Linked DNA regions of Homo sapiens: region 1 is linked to region 2. The links come from fine-mapping of genetic effects on gene expression. A gene starts in region 2. The other region holds a variant in brackets. All regions are shown on one strand. Distances are between the middles of the regions. Region 1 overlaps MED12L (mediator complex subunit 12L). Region 2 holds the start of GPR171 (G protein-coupled receptor 171).

What was found. PIP is the estimated chance that this variant, and not a neighbour inherited with it, causes the effect.
Region 1: its variant is fine-mapped to the expression of GPR171 in whole blood (INTERVAL, PIP 0.91).

Annotation. Positions count from the first base shown.
Region 1 is chr3:151,224,301-151,229,676 of GRCh38, forward strand. All of the region lies in intron 16 of MED12L (mediator complex subunit 12L), which reads left to right. All of the region lies in intron 1 of P2RY14 (purinergic receptor P2Y14), which reads right to left. Among named protein-coding and RNA genes, the nearest start is that of GPR171, 24 kb to the left of the region's middle. The variant C/T (reference allele first, on the strand shown) is at 2,446.
Region 2 is chr3:151,200,423-151,205,814 of GRCh38, forward strand. It overlaps GPR171 (G protein-coupled receptor 171), which reads right to left and starts at 2,794. Exons shown (of 3, transcript NM_013308.4): 1 at 2,682-2,794; 2 at 487-575. All of the region lies in intron 16 of MED12L (mediator complex subunit 12L), which reads left to right.

The DNA.
Region 1 (5,376 bases), 24 kb after region 2:
CTTTTTCTATGAGATAAATACTTGTTTTCTAGCTGATTCTGTATCAATAGAAAATAGTATAGATGTATGTAATCATTTATACATTTTTAAACTTACTGAAGCCATTTTCTTGCTGCTTTAATCTCTCATGCCTTAATGTTTAACACTTTTTTTTTTTTTGGTGTCAATGTGATCGCCTATGCGGTTTTCATAGTATTTATGTGTCGTGTATTTATAGTTGTGTTATTACATTTTATGTTACTAAAATAATTTACAAATAACTGTCTCATCTGTGTTCTGCATTCCTGTGGCACTCTTGTCCGTGCCCTCTCTAGGCTCAGTCAAGGAGAATCTCACTTTCTTCTTCACCCAGAAGAAGGAATCCTCCTCCCACCCCCTATCTTTTGTCATCACCCAGAGCATTTAAAGTTTGACACTCACCACACTTCTCAGAAGCTGTCAGGGACCTAATTTCTAAGCCTGTTGTCTTTTTCTCAGTTATCCTATTTCCTGACCCTCTTTGCAGCATTTGATATCATTGATTTCCCCTTATTGAAATCTGCTGTTTATATAGTGTAACCTTTGCCTCCTGTGTACCCCTGATATTTCTTCCTTTGCCAAGGCCGTTTGTTCATTTGCTCACTAAAGCCATCAGAACATGCTTATTACATTTTATGTTACTAAAATAACTTACAGCGTTTTACATCTTTAAAATATTTTATATTATTTACTAGTGTTATTTAATTCTCTCTGTCATCAGCCTCCTAGCTTTTCTTACCCAAGCAGAGCTGGATATTTTAGAACTTCTTTCACCCTGCCTATTGGGCTTGCCTTTCTGCCCCAGCACTGTGACTCCTTAGGGCTGGGTAAACAATGTCCTATGTTTCTAAGTCATAGACCTGTCCAGGGTGCCCTCGACTTCACAGAAGTTGCTGTTCTCTCTCTGTAATTGGCTACACTCCCCTTATTTCTCAGAAATCCTTCTTCTGCTTAGCTCCTGTGTTAGTCTATTGTCTGCTGCTATAACAATACTACGTATTGAGTCATTTATAAAGAAAGGAAATTAATTTGGCTCATGGTTCTGGATTCTCTGAAGCTCAAGATGGAGGGGATGCATCTGGTGAGGCCTTCCTGCTGCATCATGGTGGAAGGGCAAGTGAGCATGTGAGACCAAGAGAAAAAGAGGGCCAACTTCTGCAGTAATACCATTAATTTGCTCACGAGGCCTTTGCTATCATGATCTAATCATCTCTCAAAGGTACCACCTCTTAATGCCGTCACAATGGCAAATCAATTTCAAATGAATTTTGAAACGGACACTCAAACCGTAGCAGCTTTCTGTCAGATCCTATCGGTAGCTGTCTCATCCGTGTTCTGCATTCCTGTGGCACTCTTGTCCGTGCCCTGTCTAGGCTCAGTCAAGGAGAATCTCACTTTCTCCTTCACCCAGAAGAAGGAACTCTCCCACCCCCTATCTTTTTTCATTACCCACAGCATTTGATGTTTGACACTCACCACACTTCTCAGAAGCTGTCAGGGACCTAATTTCTAAGTCTGTTGTCTTTTTCTCAGTTATTCTATTTCCTGACCTCTTTGCTTGCAGTTTTTGATATCATTGATTTCCCCTTGTTGAAATCTGCTGTTTATAAAGTACATTGTAACCTTTGGCTCCTGTGTACCCCTGATATTTCTTCCTTTGCCAAGGCCTTTTGTTCATTTGCTCACTATAAAGCCGTCAGAACATGCTGCCATGCCCTATGGAAACACATCAGGGAACTCTCAGGAAGATTCCAGTCTAGGGGGAGGCTGAACAGAGGGACACTTCAAGGTATGACATGGGGTCATCATTGAAGGAGGAAGCACAGGAACACAGTGAGCACGTATCTAGTTTCAGAAATGGTGGCATCAGGGCAGCCTTCCTGGAGCATGTGATAGTGAAGATTGACAAATGAGTTGGCTTTAGCTAGGCAAAGAAGAAGGAAGGAGTTTTGGGGTGAGAGAGCTATAGGAACAGGCATCAAGACTGACACGAGAGGCTGTCACAGTGGGGGAAAATGGATGGCCTAAGCTCTTGGGTAACATGATGGAATCTTGCCAATGAGTAAACGTTTACGTTACAAATGAGGACAGTGATGCTTAAAATGGTTAAGTGATTCATCAAAGGGCACCTAACACATAGCCAGACAGTATTCAAACTAATGTCTGATTGATTCCAAGCCAGGGCTCCCCTGCTCCTGAAAGAATGTGGGGGCAGCATGTTTTATATGAATGTGATCCTTTACACAGGCCCTTCAACATTTTGCTGGAGTCGCATCTTGAGAAGTCAGCCAGTGTTTTTTTTTCAAGAAAGGAATGTGCATGTGTGTATGTTTGAGAGTATATATATTATTTTTGTTTTTGATCTGAGTTTTAAGGTTTTGCATGAGGTGGATGCCTTCAGTTTCTTCAGTTATCTTCCAGATACTG[C/T]GGCATAGAGAACCTCCTTTTGATTTGCCAGTTTCTAAAAGTATTTAAAATGAGTTTCTGATTTTTTGACTCAGTTTTCTATCTCCTGCGTTGATATCCAAAGAGAGATACAGAGTCGGACTATCATGAATGGTGATTACAACAGGTAACGTTAACCTATAAATGGTGGAAACTCTTCTGCAGGGAGAAACCCAGATCTGCTGCATGTGGTTTGGATGCCACACGCAGATCCCCTGGGGCCCCTGGCACAAGGAGAGCTCTGCTTGCTGCTGTTTGTCACCTTCAGCCAGTTTTCTCTGGCAGGAGATGTGAGCTCAAGATCAGGTCACTTGATCCTAACTCCTGCTGCTGTGACCCATCGACTTTACCTTCAGTTAGAATCCAGGTCAGTGACCAACATGTGTTAATGTAACTTAAAATTGGCTGAATGGTGTGGCCACATACTTTCATTGAGGAGCTGTGCTAAGTTTTCACATTAGAAATATCTAAATATTCTTCTTAGGCTGAATTGCAGATACCCAAGAACTTCCTCCTCCACCAAAGCATAAATTCGGCCCTCTCTTGATTCCCTCTTGATCTTCGTATTCACAGTCTTTACAACCCATAAAGATAAAAGAAATCTGAATTTCTGCTACAAACAGATCCAACTCTTGATTATGTGTGAGAATGGTAAGGGGGGACGGATTAGGTTGGATTTATAAACTGATAACGTCCAAACATAGTCTTTACTTTGTATTCTAATCGCTTCCCTCAAAACACTTTTGGCATAGCTTGTGGCAGACTGCAAGTCTAGCATATTGGCATGTCTAAGAACTCCAGCCTGTCTTCACTTTGTGATTATGCAAATGGATCATGGGAGCTGTCAGTGGAGGGTGAGGTGTGGCATAGGCACCTCATGACCTCCAATGGATACATAGTCATGCAGTCTTCCCGAATGGCAAACTGGGGGCCAGGAAAATGGCCACCCACTGTTAGCCTTTACTCTAGGGACTGCATCTTGGTAGTCAGGATGGACCTGTAATTTTTTGCCTATAATGATTGGAATAGTCCAGGGTTTCTCAGCCTTGGTACTGTTAACTGTTTTTTTCGGTTTCAGTTCTTTGTGGGTAGGCTGTCTTGTGTATTGTTGGGTGTTTAGCCGCATCCCTGGCCTGTATCCACTAGGTGGCAGTAGAACGCCATGGTTTGTGCAACCAGCCACGTCCCCACACATTTCTAAATTTTCTTGAGAACCACTGGAATGACCCCTTAATGGTAGGTATGTTTCAGATGATTTTGATACAGGAAGAGAATTTAGCTTTCTTGTTGGGGTCAGACCTTAACTGTAATTGAATAACTCATCAGCAGTAAGTAATCTGTATGCTAAGGTCTAGGAATGTGAAGTGTGCTTTATTTACTGCTCTGTTGGAATAGTGGACAGAGGACAGACAGTGCAGCATAATGATTACATGCATGCTTGTGGGATACAGTGGGCCTTGGCTACATGTATGGCGCTAGAATATTGCGATAATTATTAACTGCCTTTGTGTATCAGTTTTTACATGTCTAAAATGAGGGGAGAAGTAGTAGCTACCTCAGCTACATCTAGGGTTCCTGTTCCCATAAGAATCAAATACCTGGTGTGAGGCAGGCTGTGACTCAGTGGGAACATTGCGCGTACAGGGAGTGACTCAGCTGATAACAGAATAAACTATCAGGCTCCTGACAGTTTCCCCTCTTCTTTAAGTTGATTTAAGTTGACGCTCTTCTACACTGAAATTCAGGGCTGCAGGAGGCACAGTAGACCCTTTGCAGAGTGCTCTGAGCTTCCTCCAGTATGTGGCCCAGCAGTGCTTGAACAAGGGACAAATTGGGAGAGGTTTTGCTTCTGATGATCCCTCTATTCTAGTCACAGGAAGTGGCACTCAACAACAGAGTGTATGTATGAAGTCCAGAGTGTTTCAGTTCTAATTTACCAGTCCCTACACAATGCTAATCTTTCATGAGAGTGGCACAAAGCTCTGCATCACTCCTGGCTTCAGGGTTTTGGGAACCAATTCTTTTTTCTCCTGGAACTAGGTTGAGCTGCCTGAATTACTGAATTTTTTCCAGCCTGTTCTTCTGCAGCATTGTTTTGGAATATGTGGTCCTATTCCCTGGGGCCAGGCAAGGAAATGAATCCATGACCTCTTTTCGCCTCACTGAGATGGTATTTGCATTTCTCAGGCAAGCAGTACTCAGATCTGCAGATCATGGGGCTGTTAGACCATTAGTGGTTATCCTTTGCTGTGAAGATGAAGACAAATTTCCATGTGTGAGAAAACAACAGCTTTAACTGCTTAGCTGAATATCAACCACTTGTGTGTTTGTTCAAGATTCAGGCTTATATAGCCAAAGGAAAAGAATATAAATATCCAGAATTTTAAGTGGGAGTAGAAATACTGTACAGAAGTGATTCCCATATACTCTCTAACCCAAAGTGTTGTATGTTTCCTCCCTGTTTTGTGTATTAATCCCTGTTAGAGGGTTCTTTGATTTTAATAAAACATACTGTGGTAATAACTTATAAATTCAGCAATTCTTTTTTTTTTTTTTTTTTTTGAGATGGAGTCTTGCTCTGTTGCTCAGGCTGGAGGGCAGTTTCGTGATCTCCGCTCACTGCAACCTCGCCTCCCGGGTTCAAGCGATTCTCCTGCGTCAGCCTCCCGAGTAGCTGGGACTACAGGCTCGTGCCACCATGCCCGGCTAATTTTTTTTTTTTTTTTTTTTTTTGAGACGGAGTCTCACTTTGTCGCCCAGGCTGGAGTGCAGTGGCACGATCTTGGCTCACTGCAAGATCCGCCTCCCGGGTTCATGCCATTTTCCTGCCTCAGCCTCCCTAGTAGCTGGGACTACAGGCGCCCACCACCATGCCTGGCTTATTTTTGTATTTTTAGTAGAGATGGGGTTTCA
Region 2 (5,392 bases):
AGCAAGGAAACATTTTATATTATAATACAACCTTTTTAAAAGAAGCAAATATAAGTTATAGTGACCAACATTGAAGGCCAGATCAGCTACTCTGTAAGTGCCTTTTAATAAGAGAATAAAACTTCTGACATCTTTCTAAATTTTAATTTCCCCAATTAATTAATGATCCTTTGTGTGCATTTGTAATGAAACAATGTATGCAAACAGATGAATAAGGCAGATGTACACAAAGCTTTCTAAATTCAAGTGCTGCTTAAAGGCTACATGCCCTTTCTCTTTCCCTACCTGAGTTAGCACGTTAGAGTCCATGAATAATGTCATTCTTTACCAAACTCGATGAAAATAATTAAGCAGTTGGTTTGTATCTGGCACTATGCCAAATACTTTACATGTACTTATTTAACTTCTTATCATTTCCATAAGCTAGGTGTTGTTATTGTCCCTGCTTTACAGATGAGGAAATTGAGGCATAATGGGGTTACTTACCCAAGGTTGTGTAGCTGGTAAGATATAAAGCCAGGATTCCAGCTCAGTCAGTCTGATCTCAGAATCACATTCAAAACCACTCCAAAACACTGCCTCAGTAACAATAGTAAGATGATGATAGAAATGATAATGATTATTATTATATCTGCCAGTCTTTACTAAGGGCTTACTGTGTGGGCAGGAACTATGTTCTAAACAATTTTTATGTAATAAAGCTGAAATAAACTATTTTTAACTTTTTACCAAAATACTAAGAATATAAGTTTAGGCTTTTCGTATATTTTGCTGTTCTATGCATACAACCACGTGCACACACTCTCTCTCTCTCTCTCTCTCTCACACGCACATTTAAAAACAAAACCTAGGCCCATCCAATAAGTTTAAACCAACTTTGCTCTCAAAGCTTCCATAACCTAGTTTCTCTCTACCATCTCTACTTACATCCCAGATTAAGATTGGGATTGGTGGGGTCTCTATTATTCTGTGTACAGTTCCTTCCTGCCTTTATACTTTTGCATGTGATAGAAATTTTGGAGTCATAGGATTTTAAGGATGGATGGAAACTTTATCGATAGCCTGTAGTCTAATCCCCAAGTCAGTTGAGGAGATTGAGGGCTGGCACTGGTGTGTTCCTCAAGCTTTCACAGCATGTTCAGGCAGGACTAAGATCTGTTCTTATTGGTCATCTTCTAAGCGCTCTGCATTTATCCTTACTATTCCTGAATCCTGCTTATTCCAGAGCTTTAAGGAAGCTCCTCACATCTGAAAGCTACTCCAGGCTTTACCGATGTCCTTGGCGACCATGAATTTGGATAGTTACCATTTGTACCTTGGAATTTTGAACATACTTTTCTTCTTTATGTGAAAAACTAGTATTCGTGTGCATTGATATAGTGTCACATCTTTGCTTATTGTTACTTTCTAAGGCCCTAGGATTTTGGCTTACGCACTTCTATTTCAAATATTACATAATAATGGTAACATAATGTGTTTCTTTAAGTGCTCCATTGCTTGCACAACTATAAAATAAGTCTGTTGTATCAATGAGACGTATATGGTAAAGAGAAGAATTAGAGTAATTTATTTTGATTAATTTTCTCTGTAGCTAGAACTGACGATATATACCGTACATGAATAATTTATCTGAAATGAATAATCATTCAGTAATTCTCAAGAATCATGGAGCATCTCACATTTCTCACATTTGTGTTTGTGAACTTTTGTCTAAATTGCAGTGAGAAACAAATCTGTTTATTTAAAATTTTTGCTTATGTAAATTAGAGGTTAAAATATTGTATAATAACATCCTGTGTTCTGTGTCACAAGTTTGAGAACTAAGTGCTTAATAAATATTTTACCAGACAGTTACTTACCAGTGAAAATGTGAGATACTCAGAAGTAGTGCAGCAACAACAATACAAGATTTTAACTGTCTCTGTAGTTTGGATAGAGTGCCCATTGCTTAGAAAATAAATAAACTGGCTGGGCACAGTGGCTCACGCCTGTAATCCCAGCACTTTGGGAGGCTGAGGCGGGTGGATCACTTGAGGTCAAGAGTTCGAGACCAGCCTGGCCAACATGGTGAAATCCTGTCTCTACTAAAAATACAAAAATTAGCCAACGCGGTGGCGGGCACCTGTAATCCCAGCTACTCGGGAGGCTGAGGCAGGAGAATTGTTTGAACCCGGGATGTGGAGGTTGAAGTGAGCTGAGATCGCACCACTGCACTCCAGCCTGGGTGAAAAAGCGAGACTCCTCAAAAACAAAACAAAACAAAAACAAAATAAAAGCTTATTAGATTTTCTATGGGAATCACAGTGGAATCTTCTTGAAATCACCTATTGTAATGTTTGTAGAGGAAAGTCATCTTAAGGCCTGTTGTTCCCTGTTGTGAAGATCTACAACATGGCCTCTATCCACCCAGTTATAAGATTGAGTTACTGAATAGTTATGCTCGCTCAGGTATTCAGTCTGGTGTCAATTATCCTGTCTTTTGGAGACAGATGAATGGGTTCATCAGATATAAGAAAATTATAGTGTCATTCACAGCTAGGACCTATTTAGAGTTTAAAAATTGATGCTTTTTTTTTATACAGCTTGGCTTTTTCTACTTATAAGCCTTAAATACTGAAAAATCACAATTTTGTTTTCCACGGAAAAGCATTTGAATATATTAAGTGTTTAAAAAGACATACCTGGGGCTATCTTCTGTGAGCCTCAGCAAGCCTTGCTGCAAGTCTTCAGAGAAGCATGAGCTGTTTGGTTAGCCGCAGCAGTAGCAACCCCATTGCAGGCTGCTGGCTTTACTAAAAATTTCCTTTCCTTTTTGTGTGGTTTTAAAATGTTGCATATTGACGTAGATGAAACTGTGGTTTGCAAGTAGTTTAACTTTATGAAAGTCTCCTAAAGAAGTTTTTTTAATGTATACAATTTCATGTATGCTTTCTTAAGCAATTTATTTGTCATATTTTTTAGAGAAAAGATCTTCATTTAGTACCTAGCCTTTTTTTTTTTTTAAAGTATCCAAGGTATGTTTTGTGTCATAATGATTTCAAAGAATATCACTCTTCATGCCTTGATGGGGATTAATAATTAAAGATATAAGGTGTTTAAGCAAATATTTTTTCAGTATATATAGTAACACAGCATTTCAAAGTTAAAATTTAAAAAATAGTTGCAGTTTTTATTCCTGCTGAGACACCTATTATTAAAAAAAGAAGTAAACAAAAAGATGTGTTTTACAGAGTCAGCTAATGTATACATTTTATTTATCTTATTTTATGTTCATTATAGAAAAATCTGGAAATAGAAATAAAAAAGGAACATCATTATGCAGAGAGATAATTACTGTTAATATTTTTGGTACATAAGTTTTAAATTTTTTCTATGCTTATGTATTTCCACTTAGATGTTATTCATACTATTTTATAGTTTATAATTTTTCATTGAAGAATATATTATATATTCAATTTATGAGATTAGACTTGTAATAAGTATTTGTCTGTTTGACTCAAACAGCCTGATGAATTGGAATAGTATTTAGTAATTAATAGATTGTGTGTAAAGGAACCCTACAGTGTGTATTTAAGTTGTTTGGTTAAATGTTCATTGTGTCTGTGGCAGAACTAACTGAATGTTTGAAAGAAGCCTAGCATGCTGGGGGACCTAACAAACATATTTTCAAGAGTTCTGAATTTTCTGGTTCAAAGTTGATGTGTTAATGCAAAGCCATTGCCTGGTTATTTAGGGTCTGGTTTCTTCTAATGCTTCATTGGCTTGGTAGGTGCTTTGGTTTCTTTTAATAATACTTGGTCAGTTTTCTGGATAAGAAAAAAGAAGATACCTTTCCAGGATCTAAAATTAATCTCTTGGTATTAGTTTTTAAAAAGAAAAATGTCTCAAAAGATGAAATGAGAAGTATCTAGCTAGGGAGAATTTAGGGAAAGTCTAAGGAGACTTTTGAAAAAAATGTAAAGATGCTTATGATGATATTGGTCACGTCTCAGGTATTCTGACATTCTCCCAAATTCATATAATTATTATTTTTGCCAGTGAAGACCATAAATTATAAACTAGGAGGGAAAAAGCAAATGTTTCTCAAACATTTTATGTTAAGAACCACTGTGAACTTCATCATCATAGTGCTAGGAAAGGATCTTTCTTTTAAGATATGTATGCTTCAACATTGTACAGGACTCACTGAAGAACATACTTGTAGAAAAGATATATTTGCAGACAAGTAAGTGAGAAGTGATCAGGGTTTACATCCACTGGAGGGTAGAGGAGATGAAAGGGAGAGAATTTAGAGATGAGTGGAGTTGACTGCAAACAGTGGTGAATGATTTTACCATGGCATGGAGAAAAACTGGGATGAAAGATTTTTGACAGTTTCTGTTTTGCTTTTTTTAGTTAGGTCTCTTTATATGTTTACTTCCTCGGTTCACTTTAAGGTTGTAGACACAATTGAAAAGTACAAACAATTGTACTTAAAAATCTACCCAGACCACAGTTTCTGTGTCTGGATTGCCAAATGTGAAAGCACTGAAGTGCCCTTGTTCTCAGAGTTCTATTTAATTTTTAGAATAGTGAGAATTAATCTTTTAATAGATGAATCATATTCCTCCTTCTGAGAATGAGCTTAGGCAACCTGGCTTTGTGTGGAAGTTTATTCACAGTGGAAATACATGTAGTTTTCATTTTTTAATACTAGTTTCATTTGATTTTCTATAAGCCACTTTTTTCTATCTGTTTCACTGAGGACAAGTGTTTGTGACTGTACTTAGTGTTCCGGGAAGTTGCATGTCATCACTAATACACACCCAAGCGGGAAGAAGTGAGGTGAAGTTATTTTTCCCTTACCTTGGTCATGGCAGTACTTTTTGTTAAAGAAATAATCTATTCATTACTTATGAATATTTCATGGATATTTTGTATGTGTAAAATAAAAATTAAAGCTAAATTGTCCACCAAGTTATGAATTGAGAAAGAAAATATTTTCTGTGGTCAACTCTCCTATCCATACAAAACGTGCTTTTGATTTTATTGAACACAAATACCAAACAACGGTATTTCAGTAGAAATACTTGCTTTGAATATTTAGCGTTTTTAAAATGTGCTTTTTCGGCATAGCATGGAAGCCATTTGGAACTAATGAGGAAGGGGAAAGCAAATGTTGGGGTCGGTGGTCACTGCCACAGCCGGGCACAGGTCTGAGGACTTGTTTTTGTTAAAACAAGCCATGAGATACAGGAGATTCTGCCTCTTACAGATGGGGAAACTGTGGTGCAGAGAAATTAAGGCCCACTCAAGCCTGCACAGTTAGACCCTAGCGTCCCAGCTCTTAGTTATGCTTCTTACAATGAAATTGCTGGGGACAGTGATTACAATGGAGGCCATCAGGTCAATC